Regions from separate parts of the Homo sapiens genome. Here regions 1, 2, 3 and 5 are each linked to region 4. The links come from fine-mapping of genetic effects on gene expression. A gene starts in region 4. Each other region holds a variant in brackets. All regions are shown on one strand. Distances are between the middles of the regions. Region 1 overlaps UMAD1 (UBAP1-MVB12-associated (UMA) domain containing 1). Region 2 has its middle 27 kb from the start of GLCCI1-DT. Region 3 overlaps UMAD1 (UBAP1-MVB12-associated (UMA) domain containing 1). Region 4 holds the start of UMAD1 (UBAP1-MVB12-associated (UMA) domain containing 1). Region 5 overlaps UMAD1 (UBAP1-MVB12-associated (UMA) domain containing 1).

The links. PIP is the estimated chance that this variant, and not a neighbour inherited with it, causes the effect. A credible set is the group of variants that fine-mapping cannot tell apart.
Region 1: its variant is the best candidate, but not a certain one, in a credible set for the expression of UMAD1 in lung (GTEx, PIP 0.76).
Region 2: its variant is the best candidate, but not a certain one, in a credible set for the expression of UMAD1 in transverse colon (GTEx, PIP 0.78).
Region 3: its variant is the best candidate, but not a certain one, in a credible set for the expression of UMAD1 in stomach (GTEx, PIP 0.58).
Region 5: its variant is the best candidate, but not a certain one, in a credible set for the expression of UMAD1 in lung (GTEx, PIP 0.69).

Annotation. Positions count from the first base shown.
Region 1 is chr7:7,748,862-7,753,215 of GRCh38, forward strand. All of the region lies in intron 2 of UMAD1 (UBAP1-MVB12-associated (UMA) domain containing 1), which reads left to right. Among named protein-coding and RNA genes, the nearest start is that of RPA3, 32 kb to the left of the region's middle. The variant G/A (reference allele first, on the strand shown) is at 2,054.
Region 2 is chr7:7,939,830-7,944,183 of GRCh38, forward strand. No RefSeq gene overlaps it. Among named protein-coding and RNA genes, the nearest start is that of GLCCI1-DT, 27 kb to the right of the region's middle. The variant G/T (reference allele first, on the strand shown) is at 2,420.
Region 3 is chr7:7,773,956-7,778,309 of GRCh38, forward strand. The region is part of intron 2 of UMAD1 (UBAP1-MVB12-associated (UMA) domain containing 1); the gene reads left to right. Among named protein-coding and RNA genes, the nearest start is that of RPA3, 58 kb to the left of the region's middle. The variant T/C (reference allele first, on the strand shown) is at 2,239.
Region 4 is chr7:7,638,212-7,642,565 of GRCh38, forward strand. UMAD1 (UBAP1-MVB12-associated (UMA) domain containing 1) reads left to right here and starts at 2,541. Exons shown (of 4, transcript NM_001302348.2): 1 at 2,541-2,610. RPA3 (replication protein A3) reads right to left here. Exons shown (of 8, transcript NM_002947.5): 5 at 2,109-2,964; 6 at 859-933. The coding sequence starts at 2,207. RefSeq lists enhancers at 1,722-1,771, 2,142-2,191, 2,462-2,661, 2,702-2,751, 2,832-3,001 and a silencer at 2,232-2,361.
Region 5 is chr7:7,878,869-7,883,222 of GRCh38, forward strand. It overlaps UMAD1 (UBAP1-MVB12-associated (UMA) domain containing 1), which reads left to right. Exons shown (of 4, transcript NM_001302348.2): 4 at 1-355. All of the region lies in intron 3 of LOC124901586 (a long non-coding RNA gene), which reads right to left. Among named protein-coding and RNA genes, the nearest start is that of GLCCI1-DT, 88 kb to the right of the region's middle. The variant G/A (reference allele first, on the strand shown) is at 2,552.

The sequences.
Region 1 (4,354 bases), 110 kb after region 4:
CTATCAGCCAGGCAGGGTCATCAGTAAATCTAAGAACTGCCAAACTTCTCACACTCCTAATTCCCTCTTTTATCCCTCCTTTTCTGGCTGTGCTAGAGATATCCTATTACACATGATTTTCTTTTACTCTGGGCTCTTCTTCGCCCAGATCAGTGTGATTGCTTTGCATTGATTTCTGTATTTGCTTAAAAAAAATTTCCCTTGATAATGTTTTTAAACTTTCTAGCATGAGCCTTTCCATACTTGGTATTGGTGTTTTATAATAGATTTGAGGACAGGTTTGTGGGGGATTCCATAACAAATTCAATTTATCAGTTACTTCTTTTTAATGTTAAAATAACTGCAACAATTCCACAATAAATAGAGTGAAATTTGATGTGCTAAATTAATTTAAATGGTTTTGACACATTTTCCTTGAAGGACTCTTTTCTAGGTTTTTATAATCTCACCTCAGTGAGAGTACAGTATGGTTTAATTACTTTCCAGCAGTGCACACTTTAATAGCCCGTATTCCACGTGAAAGCTATGTGTCTTCTGTGGGTTTGAACTGTTTCTGCCTAATCCAAGGAAAAATATTTGAGGAACATTAGTTAATGCCTTTTCCAGGAATGGGAGTGGGTAAGCGTTTTTTTCATGGCTTATAGAATATTTAGCAATTTTAGCTTCCAGTACTTAATTTTATAGTGTTCTCAGTACTGGTGGCAAAGGCTTCCTTCAGAAAAGTGAGAAATTATGTGAATTCCCCTCTTGGCATGCTTAGGAGGGCAAGTCATGAATCTTTACTCTCATATTTTTCTAAAATAAAACTGGGCGTTGATATTTGCTGTGATCTAATATGTAGATATGATGAAAAGATTTATAAAATAGCATATATTGAGATTTTTGTATGTTCTCATAAAAGGTGCTATAAATTGAAACATTTATTACACAGAAAACGTCTAAGATAAGAGTATTATTTTCCAGGATAGTTTATCTAAGTTCTGTAAAACTTTTAATAATGTAAGTAACTACTAATGAAAGGACGTTATGTGTCACATTTGCATTCATAAATATCCATGAAGGATCTCTTTCACCAATGTTATTCAGTCTCAGTCCAAGACAAGGTCAGACATTGATTATGTTTGACATCTTAACAAAAGTGAATAGGGAAGATAAATATTCTTAATTATACTGCTAGAATGGTGAGAAGCAGTGGTCTATAATGTAAGGAGGAATATTAGCAAAATAGAATTATGGTCAATTGCAATTATAATAACTTCTATGCATTAAGTATCTTCTACTACATATTAGCTCTTTATATATGTCTTATATAATGTAATTTTAACTAATATCTTAAGAAGTCTAGGTAGTATTTATACCCATTTGCCCAAATCTGGAAACGGAGTTTCCAAAAAATTAAATAAATTCCTTAAAACTGCCCAGCTAGAGTCCATTTCACATCTGTCAGGCTCTACTAAGCTGCTTGTCAGTCTTTGACTTCCTCATTATCAGAGATAGATATGGTATTGATAATGTACAAATTGTTTATTTGGCCCAGAAATGTGTTTGTGCTTTTAAATTTGAACTAATTGTCTTTGGCAGTTTGAAATGTACAATACTTGATGGAAAATAATAAAACTCCACTCCAATTAGAATAACTACCTGATTTCTTGATTATAGCTTCTTTAATGACGGCCCATTTTATATTATACACGGTTTCATATTTTTCTTATATTTAACAAACACATATACAACACTACTGTGTGTAAGGCACTGTTCTAAGTAGTTACAAACATGAATTCATGTAATCCTCACCAGTATACTTATGAGGTAGGCATTATTTTATCCCCATTTTACAAATAAGATAAATGAGGCACAGAGAGGTTAAGTAACTTGCTCAAAATCACACAGCTAGAACATGGCGGAGCTGAGATATAAACCCAGTCAGTTTGGCTGCAGAGTGCTCTTAACTGTATGTATTTTTCAGATGTTTCAGAATTTGGTGAAAGCAATAATTGTTCTAATCCTATTGCTGGATTTAAAAGTAGGAAAGGGTAAATAGAGATAGCAAACA[G/A]TGTCAATAAAGTATTTAATAAGAAGTAATGACCCCCATAATACTTTGAAATTCCCTATATTAAAAATACAAGATGAATTGTAAAGAGAAACTGAAAACCAGCTTTAACTGTGTTAAAAGCCAGTTGAGACTTCTACTTTATTTATCCATTTGATATTATGCAGGCTTCTCTTTGTGTATATAGCTGAGCAATGTGAATATAATGCTGTCATTATTGTTTTCTGTGTTATACCACTAGTTACATTACTTCAGATTATGAAGTACAGTATTGAGCTCTGTCGTTGACTATATCTCTCCCCAATTATATGTATCATGATTTTAGCCCATATTTTATAAATGAGAGATAATTTTAATGAATGTGTGGGGCAAATAAAACTTTTAGAGTTGGTATGTTAAAATAGGGCTAAAGTTAAAGTTTCAAGAATTGTAGAGAGAGAGAGACTAGATGTGCCAATGCAAACAATGGATTGGTGAAACTGAAACTGAAGAAATTTCTGATAAGTTAGAGATTTTTGGTTAACTAAGATTTCAACCTGTGTGAATCTCAATTTTGGCAGAAATGAGGAATGTAAGCAATTCTAGCTTTGCAATGTGGAAAAGTCAGGGAAACTAAATTAGACTTTGCACTAACACTTCCTATAAGCATATGTCACCCTGATATTGAATGTTGTATATGAGGGTGGAGGGACAGGTGGGGACAAACACCCAGCTCCTCCTGGGCTTGAGCCAAGGACCTTTGGCTTCAGTTGGATCTTGTAACTGCCCTGTTTACCTGTAATCAGAGGCAAATTTACCAGGAGTAAATTTACTGGGATTTAGGTTTCAGGACCTCTGACTTGCACAGACCTCCTCCAAGGCTCTGCGAGGACCTCTAGCAATGTGTTCACGTGATCATATGGTTTTGCAAAATTTGAGGAATTTAAAGGTATTTAAGCATAATTAGTTAAGACTGCTATCTCTTTTCTACTCTGACGGTCCTTCTATCACATTTCCTCACACAGGATTGCTTTGGAATGATCACAGGCATTTATCAGATCTGGCTAAAGGGAAATTGAGTTGAGAATATACAACTTTAAACTATAGTTTGAAAGATATTTTGAAACATTTCAATAAGACAAGGGAGAAATTATAGACTCCTAATTTAGGTACATAGGGTTCATTATTTTCTCATTTTTGCACTTATTTTTTAAAGAACTGAGATAATTTAGATAATGGAACATAAAACTAAAGCAACAAAGATGAATGATGAAATAAGTAGAAATTATTTGATATCAAAAAGCATGTTGTAAAAAAATAGATTATAACAAAAGCAGTAATGCATTGAAAAGAAAAGTTTCTAATAGAGATAATAAATAGGCTTGATAGACTACTTGAAAACTTAGTTAATAAAAAAGAGTGAATCATATGAATACACTGGGGAAACACTTAAGTTTCTCTTGATTTAACCACAAAATACGTATCGAGAAAGACAACATAAAATGTCATAATATGTAACTATAATGAGCTTTATAATTAATGAGTATCTTCAGGTCAAAGAGTATATATATTAGTTGCCACATATGAAACTTTGAAATACCCTGAAATTTTGCAACTCATAAAAGAAAAAAATTTTATGAAAGTTTTCCCAAATTTTACAGTGATCCTAAAAACCCGACATGAGTTGTGAACTGAAAAGAATCTTTCCTTAACACATATTTCTAAAAATTCTTTTTATAGCATAATTAGAAGAGATGCCAAATTATTTTTTAATTTCGTATGTGGAAAATTGTGTTATAAAATTGTCATTTGTCAAAATATGTATAATCAAAAATTTTAGAAAAAAGCATTATAGAGGTTTGTTGGATAAATAAAAATAAGATGGTATTTTTCTGAATTTCATGATGTTTATTTTCAGCTATTTAAAATTTGTAATTTTTCTGTTCTAAATATACTTCCACTTTCTCTTCTAATTTTGTATTCATAATTTTGTATTCTTTTTCTTTAAAAGGTCTAGAAAAGTTGCATAAGATTCAGTTACCCTACAACCTGGATCCACCCTGGTCTGTAGTTAATGGTTTTAAACATGAAAAAATATATTTATTATGTAGCATACATATTCCAGAAGGCATAAAGTGAGAAGTAAAAGACCCCTCCTCCACTCTCATTTGTAAGCCCAAAAAGAAAATACTTGACCTTCTTTATGTATTTTTTAAAATTGTTGTCACATCATCTTTTTATTTATTTTAATTTTTGTGGTTACATAGTAGGTGTATATATTTATGGAGTACATGAGATGTTTTGATACAGGCATACATTGTGTAA
Region 2 (4,354 bases), 300 kb after region 4:
TGAAGTTTCTGGCTAAATATAATGAAGTTAAACTCTTCCCAATTTAATTTGTAGGATTAAAACAATCCCAAACAAAATCCCAGTGGATTTTTTTAATTGATAAAATGTTTCTAAGGCTCATCTGGAAGAATAAATAGACTATTAATAATATAATTCTGAAAATTAAGAAATAAGAAGTTAGACTTGCTCAAAACGATATTGAAATGTATGAAAGTGACAACCCTTTCCACAATGATAGTTAAATAGGAAGCTCTTAAACATCGAATAGAAAGTGCTTAGGCATCTCTTTGTACTTTTAAAAACAGTATATGATGAAGTAATTGTAACAGAGAAAGTGATGAATTATTTAGTAAATGATGTTGGAATAATGGCTAAAGAAGGATAAATTTTCACCTTAAACTGTATTCTGAAATAAATTCTAGATAAGTTAAAGAAATATAAAAAATTAAAAGCATTATAAACTACAAGGGAACACAGAAAATATGTAACAGATTCCGGATGTCATTTAAGTCACTAAATCCAATGACTGCAGCACCAGTTGATAGTCTTGACTGCAAACGCTTTTTTTATTCCCTTTGCTTCCTTTGGCTTTCATAACACTTCCCTAATTTTTCTCTTACCAGTTTGGCCACTACTTCTCCAGTGACTTTGCAGGATTATCCTCCTCTGGGGACCATTATATGTTTGAGTTTCTCTGGGCCCATCCCTTCTCTCCACTGTCTTCCAAGGATTCTCATCATGCCTATGGCTGTAGTTACCACCTCCTGTCAGGTGACTCTCAAACTCCAGCCTAACCATTTCCAACTTTTCAGTATTAGTCAGGATCCATGCAGGAAATGTATGGCACATTCAAAATGGGTAATTAAGAAGACTTTAGTTAAGAGATCATTTACAGAGGGTTTAGGGAAGGCAACAAAGGATAATGGTACAGTATCTCAGGGAACATTACTGCTTTAGGCCTAAACAAGGAAGCAGGTGGAAATGATTACTGAATGAGAGTGAGAGAGAGGAGGAGGTGGCAAAGGAGTGGTACAAGTAGGAAAAGGTGGGGAAGAGGGGCAGGAGAAGGAAGGGGAAGAGAGAATGCAGTATGGAGATAATATGGAATAAATAATCAGCCTCCACGCTCTGCCTTCAGTCTTCTGCTTCTACCTCCCATTGGCTGAACCTAACTAGAAGACAGAGAACACGGGAACCAGGTGCTAAGGTTACATGGGATGTTGATTCATTTCATACAGGTCAGTCTCTCTGGATACAGCAGAATAGAGAAGGGTGGAGAGTGGCTCTATGTGGGAAAGCAGAAGATATCCACCTAGCATTCACCTCCTACCTGGCTTCTTCTCCAGGACATCCCAAGAGCATTTCAAACTCAACGGGTCCACAATTGAGCTCATAAACTGCCCGCTGCATACCCTCTCCTCTCAAAAAACAAACTAACAAAAATCCAAACTGGTTCTTTGTCAGTGTTTTCCTTCTTTTTTGTTAACAAGTTTATTTTCTTGCATTTCTTATTTTAAAAATTTTACTGTATATATTTAAGGTGTACAACATGATGTTTCGATATACATATAGAAAGTAAAAAGGTTACTATAGTCAAGCAAATTCACATCCATTATCTCACATAATTACTTGTTTTTTGTGTGTGGCACCTGAAATCTACTCTTTTAGGGAAAATCTCAAGTACAATACAATATTATTTCATGGAGCCCTCCTGTTGCACATTAGATCTTCTAATGTTATCTTATGTCATCAAATGCTATCAATGTCAGGATTGAATTCTCATTACCATGGAATGGATTAAACTGGGGCAAGAGTAGGAGCAAATAGATCAATGAGGAGGCTGTTCCATTAGTGCAAGCAGAAATGATGATAGAATGGACTAAAGCAGTGTTGGTAAATATGAAGAGAAATGGACAGATTAAAGTGGATAGATTAAAGAGATATGTAGAAAGCAAAAGTAATAGGATTTGGGGGTTTGATAGAATTGGATGTTGGGGGTAAAGGTAATATGGTTGTCAAAGATGACACCATGGATTTTAGGAAGGAGGCAGCACTCTTTAACACGGACTTATTAACCCTGCATAGTCAGCTTCTCCCAGCTCCATCCCCCAACCTCTCAGCCTTTCCAGCTTCATCTTATACCAAGACCCTCTCAGGATCCGGTGGCGTTTACTTTCTTTTATCCCTCTTATTTCCTGTGCTTGTTCCTGAGCAGGACCTTTGCACCTATAGTTCCTACTACCTGTAATGCCCTTACCCAGCTACCTGACTCCTTTTCATCATTCATAGTTCAATCACCGTTTCCCCAGGGAAGCTTCCCCTGATTTCCTTAGTTAGTCCTAATTTTCCTATTAGAGCTCTCATATATTGTGTACCTTCTCTTTGTAGGATCTGTCCACTGGCAGCTCACACTTATTTG[G/T]GTGGCTTTTCAGTTTAATGTTTGCCTTACCCTCGGTCCCCCCACTAGGATATAAACTAGGATATAAGACAGGGACTGTATCTTTTTTGGCTCGCTTGTGTATTATAGCCTGGAACCCTGTGGTTGCTACGCACAGACACACACACACACACACACCTATTAGTGAATGAATAACAGTAAAAGCAATGGAATATATCACAAAGAAAAATACTGGTATATTTAATTACATTAAGACTATATTCTTCTCTGAATTAAATAAGACTACATAGCAAATAATGAACAAGTGATAAACTTGGAGACATAGTCATAATAAATAGACAACAAGATTACACCCTCAATAGAGTTCTTACCACATCAACAATAAAAACACTGATAATGCCTAATAGGAATTGGCAAAAACCAAATAAAAAACTCCAAAAATCCCATAAAGAGAAAGGGTTCTGACAGCTTCTCACTGTAAAAATTGGAAGCCCAAATCAAACTAACCTAAACACTAAGGAAATAATATATTTTTGCATGTAACCAGAAAGTCAGGTTGACTTCTCTGAGGTTCACAAGATAACACCCAGCAGCACGTGGGGACAATACGCTTTCCTGTTCACATTCATCAGAGGAGAAGTGGAACCTCTCTCTCTCTCTTTTTTTTTTTTTTTTTCTTGGCTCACTGCAACCTCTACCTCCTGGGTTCAAGCGATTCTCCTGCCTCAGCCTCCCGAGTAGCTGGAACTACAGGCACCCGCGACCACACTCGGCTAATTTTTGTGTTTTTGGTAGAGGCAGGCTGGTCTCAAACTCCTGACCTCAAATGATCCACCCACCTCGGCCTCCCAAAGTGCTGGGATTACAGGTGTGAACCACCACACCAGGCCGTAGAATCTCTTTTCTAGCAACAAAATACAAGTGCTTCTTCTCAGCCTTATTGACTCAGATTAGGACCAACCTGGATTAAATCTCTTGTCACAGGAATGCTATGTTTTGATTTTGAACCTTTCACTAGCCAAAGAGATTGGATTACTATGCTTGGTTCAATAGTAATCAGGACTCATTCCGAGAGCTGGGGTCAATTCCAGAAACTACATTGTTGTTGAGGAGTGAAACACGATGTCCACTGTAATTGGCCATAACCATAGGAAAGAAATGGTCAACTTTAGGATTGAGGGAGATAGAAGAAAATAAAGACAGCTGTGAGGCATCATTTTTCAACTCAAATTTAAAGCTGGCTTTTAAAATTACACCATTCACTGAAAATGGATTATAAATTGATTTAACTTTTCTGGAGGGCAATTTGGCAATATATGAAGCACCTTTAAAACATTTATGACAAATTTTGGAAAGTATACATATGTGTAGAAATAAGGAAACACAAAAATGTTCATGTGGCTGCCACTAAGTGGTAAGTTTATAGATGATTTTAATTTTCTTTTTAATATTTTCCATAGTTTTTAAAAACAGGCCTAATTACATTTATTTAAACACAAAGAACGTGAAGTAACCTGTTATTTAAGAACATGGACAAATTCCAGTCAAGAATATCCTCTAGAAGCTTGAGAGGTGGGAAAAGTAGTTTGGGGGATTTATTTGCTCTCTCAAGGTGATGAAAAGAAAAATATCTGAATCAAAGAGTCTGAGTTATGGAATTCTCTGCTTCTGGGGTTCTAGTGCAGCCCCGTTGGTCTGGAATTCAGGAAAAAAGATACAAGGCATAAAATCCCACAGAAAGTTACACAGTTGCAACAGAACATTTAGCATTTATTGCTTGTTCTTCTAATTAAACCTCTAATTCAACTCACTAGGCCCTTGCCTGCTAGCTTTAGTGAGTAAAGTTGAGACCATGTGACTGGACTTAGCTTGATTTAATGTCATGTTCATTGAGGAGAATGGTTGGACTTTTTTTTAAAAAACATGAGCATAGGAAATATCTGAAGTCACTTTTAA
Region 3 (4,354 bases), 140 kb after region 4:
GCTCACTGATGGCGGCTCTCTACTGATTTCTTTTGTCTCTCCTCACCACAGACCCTAAGAAAACACTGAGAATCAGGCCATCCATTCTAAATGGCAAACCATGGCTGCAGCTTGATAGCTGGTGCTTTTTCTGTTTGCAAACTGAGTCCTCAGGTGCACCAAAATCTTCTTCCCCTTTCTCTGAGCAGCTTCTCAGGCTTAGATGCTACTCTGACTTCTCGACAGACTTCTGCTTCTGTAGAACATGAGCAATGTTGTTTAGGAAAGAATGGAGCAGAGTGTGGGGTGGATTAGAAAGGTAGAGTAACAATTAAGAAACTGAGGCAGTTTTTAAGGTCAGAACAATAATGAAGAGCATTGAAGGTAGATAGCAGCAGGATGCAGCAATAGAATTATGGGACATGCTAATTACTAGAATCAGAATCAAAAAATCTGGATTAAAGTTCCAGCTAGCCTAGCGTTGTGGGAAAGCCATTCCCTCACTTTCTGTTTCTTCATGTATAGAGTGGAACCTGTTCTACATACCAAACAAGTTGTAAGTCTCAAAAAAGAAAGAGAGAGAGCTTGAGAATGTGAAAGTGTTGTGAGGTAGTATAGTTATGGAACTGTTTGACCCATTTATGTCCTTTTTTTGGGAACTCTTGACAACCAAGGAAAGAGAATACAAGAAATATTAAATTTTACTAACATAGATTCTTTGTGAGTGCTCTTAAAGCTGTTTGATAATCCCACTACTTATCTCTGTTTGATTCCCAACCCACTGCTTTCTCATAACACCAATTTCAACTCTTGTCATCCTTCTCAAGCCCCAGGCCCAGTTCCTTCTATTTTAGTCTCAGTAGATAAGTTCTTCCCCAATTTTGCCAGGAAGGTTGAGCAAAGCCCTTGAGTTTCCCTGGCCACCATCTCAAAATGTATTTCTTCACTTAATTTCCATCTCACTTTCTGTCTCTTCCTCGCAAAGGTAACCTGTATCCTTATCACATTCTCATCCCATTTCTTCTCTAACCTTTCTTCATCAATTATTTCATGTCTTTCTCTTGTTCTTTTAATCTCCTCTACCGGTCCTTCCTCATAGCCAAGAAACCCTCTTTAAGTTCACTGTCATATGTGTTTCTTCCATTTTCACTGCCAAAATTTTCCAAAGACTGATTTGAGCTCATTCTTTCTTCACCATTCATGCTTTCTTTTGGTCCATTTCAGTATGGCTTCTGTCTGTTCAAATAAGCACATGAAAAGATGCTCAGCATCGGTAGTTATTAGGGAAATGTAAATTAATACTGCAATGAGATACTACTTGATATGGTTTGGCTGTGTCTCTACCCAAATCTCATCTTGAACTGTAATCCCCATAATCATATGTGTCCTGGGAGGGACCCAGTGGGAGGTAATTGAATCATGGGGGCAGTTTCCACCATGCTGTTCTCATGATAGTGAGTGAGTTCTCATGAGATTTGATGGTTTTATAAGTGTCTGGCATTTTCCCTGCTGTCTCTCATTCTCTTTCCTGCCACCCTTTGAAGAGGTGCCTTCCGCCATGATTGTAAGTTTCAAGCCCTCCCCAGCCATGCAGAACTGTGAGTCAATTAAACCTCTATAAATTACCCAGTCTCAGGTATTTCTTCATAGCAGCATGAGAATGGACTAATACACTACTACACCCACTAGAAAGGCTAAAATTACAAAGACTGACCATACCAAATGTTGATGAGGATATGGAGAAATTGGAATTGCACATATTGCTGGTGGGAATATAAAATGTTACAGTCATTTTGGAAGTTTGGCTGTTTGTAAAGGAGGTAAACATATACCTACTATATGATGCAGCTATTCTACTTCTAGGTATTTACTCAGGAGAAATGAAAAAATATACTATGTGATTCCATTTAAATAAAAATCTAGAAAATGTGAACCTATAGTAATGGATAGCAAAGTGGTTGCCTGGGAATGAGTGTATAATGTTGGAAAAATGGATTACAAAGTAATACAAGGAAACTTTTCAGGGGTGATGGATCGTTATGTAGGTTGTGATGATGCCTTCACAAATATATATAAACTCATCAAATTTGATACTTGAAAATGTGTAATTTGTTATACACTATACCAAAACAAAACTATTTTAAAAAATCATAGAACTGCACACTGAAAAGGGTGAGTTTTATAGTATGTAAATTATCCCTCAATAAACCTGACTTAAAAAACAAAACAAAACAAGACATATGGAACCAGGCACAGTGG[T/C]ATGCACTTGTAGTTCCAGCTACTTGAGAGGCTAAGGCAGAATGATCAGTTGAGCCCAGGAATTCGAAAGCAGCTTGGGCAACATGGCAAGACCCCATCTCTAGAAAAGAAATAAAAATATGAAAATGCAATCAATATGGGGAATGAGAGTGCAAAAAGTAATTGTTAAACGCTAATCTCAAAATATTGCATACTTTGTAAATCCATTTATATAGTATTCTCAAGTGACAGGGTTATACAGATAGAGAGCAGATTAGTGGTAGCCAGGTTTAGGGATAGTAAACCATGGGGAAAACTAGGTGACGGGCACACAGGAATTTTCAGTGTTGTTTTTGCAATTATATGACTAAAGAATCTGTATCACAAAAAGTTTCTTTTGAAAAGGCCTTTTAGATATTGTATTCTCTAATGTGAAACAAAGACAGCATGCCAAAAAATAATCAATCTTTATAATTAAATCTATAATAACGGTTACTCTGCAAACACTTGAAACTAAATTTCATAGAGATGATTACAATTTAACATTGTATTGTTGTAGACAGAAGGCACAGGAAGAATCATTTTCCAATTTCTGATCACCCTATCTAAATGTTCAAAATCTTAAATTCGTTTTGACTAGATAATACATATAAATGGCTAAAAAATATATGAAAAGTAATACACTGAAAAGCCTTCCTCCAACATCTGTCATCGATCCACACAGTTCTTCCTCCTCCAAAAGTAAACTACTACTGTTCATCTTTTATGTATTCTTTCAGAGTTTATGTCTACACGAGCAAATGCAGGTGTATCTTTTTACCCTCCTCCATGCTTGTATGCAAAAGGTAGCTTACTATACCAACTCGTTTTGCGCCATACTTTTTTCACATAACAATGTATCTTAAGACATTTTCAAGGTGGTATGCAGCTTTTTAATTTTTTCTTTTGACAGTTAGTATTGTATTATATGACTGTACCATACTTTATTTACTGATCTCCTGTCTAGCCATTTAGATCATTTCCAGACTTCCGCTTGTAAAAACAATACTACAGGCTGGGCGTGGCGGCTCATCCCTGTAATCCCAGTACTTTGGGTGGCTGAGGCGGGCAAATCACAAGGCCAGGAGTTCAAGACCAGCCTGGCCAACATGGTGAAACCCTATCTCTACTAAAAATACAAAAAATTAGCTGGGCGTGGTGGTGGGTGCCTGTAATCCCAGCTACTCGGGAGGATGAGGCAGGAGAATCGCCTGAACCCGGGAGGTGGTGGTTGCAGTGAGCTGAGATTGAACCACCGCACTCCAGCCTGGGAGACAGTGTGAGACTCCATCTCAAAAAAAAAAAAAAAAAAGAAAAACTACAGTTAATATTCTTATATTTATGTCATTTCATACATGAGCAAATATATATATATATATATATATATATATGTAATTGCCAGTATTTGGCTTTTTAACCTAGAAAAAAATTTATGTTGTTCAGTCTAATATCTGTAGAGTAAATGTTCACATATGTAATTCTTTGAGACAAAATATTTAGCATCCTTTTGATTTTCTGATCTACTTCCAGATACTCGTGATAGTCTGGATGTTTAAAATTTGTAAAAGGGAGTGGGGAACCTTTATTTAAAAGCTCCTTTTCAATATAGTTAAGGGGGAAATACCCATGTACACAGGGCTATTTCTGGAAATCCTTTACCAGTAACTTCATTCAGTAACATATCTAACTCTAACCCTGATCTAGCTGTGTTAGGCTTCCTTGCCTGCTAGTGAAAGCCTTTGCTCTCCCCTTATTAAAAGGCCTGAACATAAAACTCTGAGACTGTTTATCCTTCCCAAGTGGGGCATTGCAGAAAAATATCTTCTTATTCGCTATCAGTGTTACTCTCTATTGATCATCACAATTATTGCAACTTTAATATTATGACATTGTATGTCTTATGCAATATTAGGTTCTCTGAAAAAGGCTTTTTGTACATATGACAAATAGGTGGAGTATGCTCTTCTACACAGTGAGCCAACCAGCCGTCATCTTGGCTTCTCCAAAACTGGTTTTGTGTGTGTGTGTGTGTGTGTGTGTGTGTGTGTGTGTGTGTGTGTGTGTGAGAGAGAGAGAGAGAGAGAGACAGAGAGAGAGC
Region 4 (4,354 bases):
AAAGACAAAATCACTATTGAAAACGTCCAGCATTTCTATAAGCAGTAATATCCTATGAGAGGAATCTTCTATAATCTGTATTTCACAATGTGTTCTGTATACATTAACCAAACAGCATATGGATTTGTCTTCACAAAATACCAAAAAAAGTTTTAAGTATGTTAAACATAAAATGCAAACATAAATAAGTAAAAACTGGAAATATATGAACAAAAATAGAAAATAAAATAAAATCGAAAACTCTTGAGGGGCTGGTCGAGGCAGGAGGATTGCTTGAGACCGAGAGTTCAAGACCAGCCTGAGGAACATAGGGAGATGCCATCTTTACAAAAAACAAAACAAAACAAAACAAAACAAAACAAAACAAAAATTAGCCAGGCATGGTTAAGCATGCCTGTAGTCCCAGCTACTGGGGAGGCTGACATGGGAGCAACTTGATCTTGGGAGGCTAAGGCTGCAGTGCGCCATGATGGTGCCACTGCATTCCACCCGGGGTAACAGAGTGAGACCCTGTCTCAAAACAAAAAAACAAAAACGAAACAAAAAACCTCTTGAGGAAGAAAAAAGCAACGTAAATTTTTCTTATGTGATTTTATGGTCTTTCATAAGGAATGAGAATTGTTATCCAACATTTATGGGATATGTTCAAAAATCATGACGCCCAAAAAATCATTGGTTAAAAATGTAAAAGGAAATATAATGAGAGAATAGTACAAGAATTAAATTTTACAGCCAGGGACGTTTTACCAGCTCATCCTTTTTAAATCCATTGCAAAAATTAGAAACATCGGCAACAAACCAAATCAAGATGAAGAATTAACTATAATATATAAGAGACTTATTAACACTTAAACATACGGGTTCCATCAACTCGATGGTTCCATTTTTTCCTTCTCCATCTGAAAGAATAAACATTTTTCCGGTGGGATGAATCTAAAAACGAAACATATAATTAAAATCTCACTAAAACAACAACAAAGTTTGACTAAAGATGAGTACATTGATCCTTAGTTGAGCACAAATCAACTGTTTCTTGAACAGTTTATTCATTCAGTTTATTCAACTTATTGGATCAAATTATAATCTTATGTTATCAAATCTGTTCATGGAACACACAGTTAATTTCTGAATTTCAGATAAACAAGGATTTTTTTTGTAGTGTTAAGTAGGTTCTGTATTTGCTAAATATGGCAACCCTATTCTGATAACAAATTAAAGGATGCCCACCCTAAAAGTGAAATCTGCTGGCACTCATGATTTAGACAGTACATATCCCACGGAGGGTATGTTTTAAAAAACAGGCATGATGAAGTAAAAGGAGAACTGGTTGCTAGAATATCTGGGTCCTACTCCTGGGAAGCAGCTGTAAAGAGCGCTGTCAGATTGCGTTTGAATGCCAGCTTTGCCATTTGCCGAGTTTCTGAGCATTTTAGTCAACCACCTACCACTCCTACTCAGTTTCCCTACTTGGGAAGTCAGAGCAACACTCATTTAAGGAAGAGGATGTGTGGATGAAATGAGCTACTAAATAAGTCTTTATATAATAGTTTTCTTTTCCTCAGCTTTTCAGGTCACTGATTCCAAGACTTTGGGCCTGTTTCTCGCCTGTAGAATGAGGGAACTTCACTTTAATACTGGGGTTAAATAACTCGTTACTACGGGACCCAAAGCGGACAACCAAGGCATGTTTTACAGAGAAGCGATCACAACGAGGAAACGAGGTTTGCAAAAATAAGTAATTTCAGAAGAGAAGGAAACCAGCAGATTAGTTTTGTCTGCGTCCGTCACGTCTGAGTAAACTAAGAAATCTGAAGGTAGATGTGGGAGTGGTGTTTATAATTTCCCTTACGTAAGCACGGCTAGAACGGAGGCGACGGGCACTGGAATTTAGAACTCAGCATTTGAAAACACTTTGTTTCCGTGCCATAAAAGAGCGCCAAAATGGGGCTACAACGGCTAAAGAATTTCCAAAAAGTTCCTTGTGCAAAATAAAGGAGTCGGGGGCGCAGTGATCGGAGGCTTTCCGTCCTTTTTCATCCCCCGTTATCCAGGCGGGGTCCCTCCCTCCAGCTACGGACTTGGGAGCCCATGATTGCGAACCCGCACACCTTTTCCAGCCTCCCTACGAAGCAGACAGGCTTGTCGATGAATTGAGCTAGCATGCCGGCGTTGATGCGCGACCTGGGCAAGTCCATCATGTCCACCATGATTATGGTCCAAGACTGCGGCTGGCGGGAAACCCACGGACGACTGAAACTGTGCGCCCCGCGGGTGTCTATGGGGCAGATTTCTCGGCACCAATCAGCGAAGACTAGCGCTCCAGCTTCGCCAATTAAATGCGCGGAAACCTAAATCGCAATCGCGCTGTCTCTGAAAGGGGTGGAGAAGGGGCTGGATGAGTCCGGAAGTGGAGATTGGCTGCTTAGTGACGCGCGGCGTCCCGGAAGTTGACAGATACAGGGCGAGAGGCAGTGGAGGCGGGACTTGGATAGGGGCGGAACCTGAGACTACCTTTCTGCGATCACAGGATTCCCGGCGGTGACTTGACCCCGGAAGTGGGGTGTGAAGCTCCGGTGCTGGTGCGGCGGGGGACTGCGGGGCCAGCCTCAGGTACCTCGTCTCGCGGGAGGCGCCGCAACCTTACTGTTTCCCCATTCTTCCCGCGAACAGAGTCAAAAGAGCTAGGCGGGAGTCGGCACTAGCTGCTGCCGCGGTGCTGTGGGTGCTGCGTACCAGCTGTTCACTGCTGTCTCGCCTTCCCTCTTGCCAGTTCTGCGTGGGAGGCGCGGGAGTTTTGCGGAATGATACGTGGTGTGGCGTCGGGGTTGTGATACCCGCCCCCTTGGAGATGGGCAGCGGGGTCATCAGTGATCTTGATCACTTTCTTCAGGCTTTTGCCACTTGTTGGCTGAGGGTCGATTTACTCCCTTAGCTGCGTCACTCTACTTTCTCCACTTTCTCCACCTGTAAGAAGAGAGATTGATCCGATTACTTCTAAGACGTTTTTTAGCCCAACCTGGCCACACTGCGGAGGCGCCGGTTCTTTCACCCCGCTAACCCCTCCGTGTTGGCAGCCAATAGAAGCACTTAAGGATGGGTAACGGGGAAGAACCACTGGCCAGTACTAGGGGAGACAAGCTTAAATCGTTGTTAGACCCCGAGCTAGGGTTCCCCGAGCTAGGGTTCTCCCTTCTGAGGCGTGTTTTCCCCATCTGCAAAACGAAGGGTTAGGCGGAATGATTTGCAAGGTCCCAGTTGACTCTGACTTTTGGCCATATGTTTGACTCAACAGTTTAAACCCCCTCAGCAGTCTTTCTGTCGTTGCCCTCCACACTGCGAGACTCTGGAGGGCGATCTGGAGGTCTGGAAGATAACCGATTCCTGGGAGATTTGGGGGTAGTCTCCAATCTGTCCCTGGCTCATCTTGTGACCCGAAGCCGGCGGCCTTGCCAGGAGTATTCTAGAATGAGTGCACATAAAAATACCTTCAAACGGTACGGTGGAAATTGGACAGAAGTTTTAATTGGGTATTATAACGTTGTGGAAACTGAGTCTGTGAATTGGCCCAAAGCTACAGAATTGTCATCGTTCAAATTCCCTTAAGCAAAAAAGATCCGATTTGAGACTTCACGTGGCAATTTAAGATTGGAATCTCATGTACGATAATTAAATGATAGTCTCCCTTAGTGTTTCCTTAGCACTTAATAGGTTTGTCTTAGTTTTACTCACTAACGGTACTTTAAAGGATTTCATTAAACAGATGTAGAATGTGTGTCAGTGGTGTATAAAAAAGTTGTGGTTGTATTGGTGCAAGTCAGTAAAGTCTATTTTATATTACAGCTTTAAGTCTTTTGTACTTTAGCATTGTTTTGCAAAGCAAGTTGATGTGCATTATATAGGGGAGAGTACACACATCAATGTCTTTAATAGCATTTTTTTTTGAGGCAAGATCTCTCTCTGTCACCCAGACTGGAGTGCAGTAGCATGCACATAGCTCACTGCAGCCTTTAACTCGTAGGCTTAAGCGATCCTCTCACCTCAGCCTGCCAAGTAGCTGGGACTATAAGCACATACCACCACACCCAGCTAATAAAGATTTTTTTTTTGTTGTTTGTTTTTTTTTGTTCAGATGGGGCCTCGCCATGTTGACCAGGCTTATCTCAAACTCCTGGGCTCAGGCGATCCCTCCCTCCCCCGTCTCCCTCCCAAAGTACTGGAATTACAGGTGTGAGCCTTGGTGCGTACCCTGTAATAGTGATTTTTTTTTTTTTTAAAGAGCACTCCTGTGAGTACCAGATGTTAATGTCGTTGTTTACCTGCAGTTAGAAAGACCACTTTTAAGCAAAGGCTTTCT
Region 5 (4,354 bases), 240 kb after region 4:
ATGTTACCATATGGTGTTAATGATTAAATTAGATCTTTACATAGTTCTTACAAAGCATCAGTCTAGGAAATATGACTTATTACTGATGCAAACGTGAACATTTTGTAGTAGTTTTGTAAAAGAACATCCTTTTCAAATATCTGTGTTAATGTACCCTTGAAATTAAATGCAAGCACATAGTCAGTTTGTCTAATTTTGTGTGAAATTTTGTCGAAAATACCTAAACATTTCATCTATATTTGTGCCTACCATGTTATAAATGTTCATAAGTACCTTCATGTGTCTATAAAAAATGTTATATTTAAATAAATGTGAATTAAAATAAAATTTTTGATTATTTTCAGATCCAGAAAAATGGGTTTGATTGCATTATTTATATCTGAATGCAAGTTGTTAATTCTTTAGGAGCCAAAAAGTTTAAGTATATAGTTTGTATAGTGCTGGGAAAAATATACGATTTCCTCTTACATGTAAGTTTTAAGGAATAACATTAAAAATGGTAAGATCCCTAGTCCTGGCTTAACAGGACTGGAGGGATTTGAGAGAGATGACATGAGCATTTCTAGATTGATACCATCATCACAACATTTAGTAAGGGCCAATGTTAATGATCTTCTTCTTTAAACAAAAATATTGTGAAAATTACCATTTAATTTTTTATTCTGTATATAAATTAATATTTCTATGAAACATTAGAAATCAATACGTCAACTTCATTTTACCCAAGATAAAATTGAAGCCTAGAAAGACTAAATGACTTAAATCACTTAGTGATAAATAAATGCCTACTTTAATAGTGTTAGTAATTATAATATATGATAACAAAGCTGTATGATATGGTGGGAGAGAGTTCAGGCAATTGAGGCAGCCAGACAGAGTTTGTAATGGCTCCCTCCTTTATAAGCTGTGGGGCTTTCAATCAGTCCCCTAACTTCTGGTGCCCTCAGTTCTCTCAATTGTGAAACACTAATTGTTCATAACTTGTAGCGTTGTGTTAAGTTATAGGTGGTGTATGTCAAATGCCTGGCAGCCTAAAGCCTTGCACATCATCGGTATTCTGGGAAAGGGATTGTTATAATTCTCGTTATTGACCATACACACACAATACTATAATGAAATGCAAAATACATATTAATTGAACTTCTTGAAGAGTAACATAAATAAAACAGCTACCTACGTTAACTGTAGATCCCCCTCCTTCCCAGTTATTTTTTTCCATATTAAATACCTTACTATGAGAAATATTCCTAAAATATGTTAGTTGACTGTTCTGCCTTAACTAAGAATTCCATAGTGAACATTTTTTTCTTTTTCTCGTTATTACAGTCTTTTTCCTAATATATGTTATTGTTGCAAAGTACTATAGATATGGAATGTGCAGGTGATTTTACTGAATCTTATTTATTTATTTGTGACAGAGTTTTGCTCTTGTCACCCAGGCTGGAATGCAATGGCATGATCTCGGCTCACTGCAACCTCCTCCTCCTGGGTTCAAGCGATTCTCTTGCCTCAGCCTCCCAAGTAGCTGCGATTACAGGTGCCTGCCACCATGCCTAATTTTTTTTTTTTTTTTTTTTAGTAGATACAGGGCTTCACCATGTTGACTAGGCTGGTCTCGAACTCCTGAGATGATCCACCCGCCTAGGCCTCCCAAATTGCTGGGATTACAGGCATGAGCCACTGTGCCCAGCCTTGAATCTTATTTTTAGCCCTAAAATATATTCAAGAACTTGCATGTATTTTTTTCCCAAGCTTTCTTTAAAGACATTTGCATTCTTTCCTAAAAACAGAATGAGAGAGGCGATTCTGACCAATTTATTATCCTGGCTAATTAAATTTTGATCAACTGAACTTTTAAAATTGTACCATTAAAATGTTAACAAAGCCACAATTTTTATTAACAATTGCAAATCAAATCCGTAATAGTTTTTTAAGGTAAATATTCATTGACGTCAACACTTATTTTTTTCTTCTCTTAAAGAAAAATGGTAAATTCAAAACAGTATGAAAAAATTCTTCTAAAATTCCCAGAGATTTCATTTCTCATAATTCTAAATGACAGATAAGGAGAAGCAAGGAAAGAATCTCACTCATGTTCTGAAACCGTAGTACATCAGACTACCTCTGTGCCTCCCATGGTAACAATTGATCAATAAGTGAACACTGCCCTCAGTAATCTAGCAAAGAATATGTTTCTTTCAGAGATTAGTGCGTTATCTTATTAATTATGTCAATAACTCACACAAAATATAAGTTTATTGGAAATGCAGTTGAAGGATGGTTTATCTTTTAAAGTTTTTGGGAAATACAGGTTTATTGACATTCTCTTTTGAGCATTTGTCCCATATTACTGAGGGCATGACCTAGGTATTATTGGGAAATCTAAAACTTTCAGAATAAGTCCAATTCCATTCATACTACAGTGGCTTGAAGGATTAAGTATTCTTATGTTTCAGGAAAAGGACTCTTTTTGCCATATGGTTTGGCAGATAGGCGTGTGTGGGAAAGAGAGAAAGAGGTATTGATTGACGCAGGGAACTCTGTTTCAGTC[G/A]ATGTGACAATATGTCAGTCTTTTAAAAATTTAAATAAACTTTTTATTTTGGAATAGTTTTAGATTCACAGAAAAATTATGAAGGTACTACAGAGAGTTCCCACATACCCCTCACTTAGTTTCCCCTGTTGTTGACATGTCACGTAACTGCAGTACATTTGTCACAACCGAGGAATCAACACCGGTACATTGCAATTAACTACACTGCACACCCCGTTCAGATTTCATAGTTTTCCTCTAATGTCCTTTTTCTCCTTCAGCAGCCTACCTGGGATAGCACATTACATTTATTTAGTCGTCATATCTCCTTAGGCACCTCTTGGCTTCAACAGTTTCTCAGACTTTTTATTTTTGATGACCTTGACAGTTTTGAGGAGTACTGGTTAAGTATTTTGTAGAATATTTCTCAAGTGGGGTTTATCTGATGTTTTCACATGGTTAGACTAGGGATATCGGTTTTTGGAGAAATATTAAAAAGGTGATACCCCCTTCAGTGAGATTATATCGTATTGAGAGTAGTATAAGCTATAGACATGACTTATTACTGATGATGCTGACTTTGAATACCTGGCCAAAGTAGTGCTTCTCAGGTTTCTCCACTGCAAAAGTTATTCCCCCCAACCTTTCTATACTCTTTGGAATTAAATCACAAAGCACAGCCCACACTCAACGAGTGGGTAATTAAACTCCACCTCCTTGAAAGGCAACTATCACATAAATTATTTGGAATTCTTCTGCATGAGAGATTTGTCTCTTTTCCCCAATTTATTTATCAATTATTTATATTAGTATGAACTCAGGAATCTTCAATCTTTTTCCAAGTCTTAATCAGTGCTATCCAAGAGACATATTTACATTTTTATGAAAGTCGATAAAATTTGGAACATTTTACATGGTGCAGATGAATACCATTTTATGTTGGATACGATAGTATATTCTATGGTTTCCTCAAAATTTATCTTCCTGTTAATGTCAGGCATGTATCTCCTTAGCTTGCCACAAATAACTATATATACCACAGACCTTCCTTTGTAGGGCTAACAGTGTTGCATTGTAAGTGGAGGCCTCATAGATACCTGGCCTTTTCCTACCTTATTCCAAAGATGGTTGCATCTTATAAATAATGTCATTCTTCAGCAAATGGTATGGAAATGAGATTGTAATGTCATTATTTCCTCTTTAAATAATCAGGACAACTCATGATACAAAGAGCTCTTCTCTATAAAAGGTGGGACTTTTTTTTTTAGTAATAGCAAAAATAAAATTGTACCTCCTTAATCTTCTACAGAAAGATGGATTTCATTTTCAACATTAAGAGGTAGTTTTAAGAAGCAGTAGAAGTCAGCCTGGGCAGCATGGTGAAACCCCGTCTCTACAAAAAAGTTAGCTGGGCTTAGTAGTTGCAATCCCAGCTACTCTGGAGGCTGAGGTTGGAGATCATCTGAGCCTGGGGAGGTCGAGGCTGCAGTGATACAGTGAGCCGTGATTGTGCCACTCCAGCCTGGTTGACAGAGTGAGACCCTGCCAAAAAAAAAGAAAGGGAGAAGGAGAAGGAAGCAATAAGAGGAAGAAGAAGAAGGAGGAGGAGAAGGAGGAAGAAGAAAGAAGAAGAAAGAAGAGGAAGAAGAAGAAAGGAAGAAGGAAGAAGGAGAAGGAGGAGAAGGAGAAAAAGAGGAAGAGGAAGAAGAAGAAGAGGAAGAAGAAGAAGAAAAGAAGAAGCAGCAATAAAAGGAAACCAATCTTCTTTTGGAGGGGAAAAGTGCCCAAGAATCTCATAATTTTACTTCTCATTAGCGAAAGCTC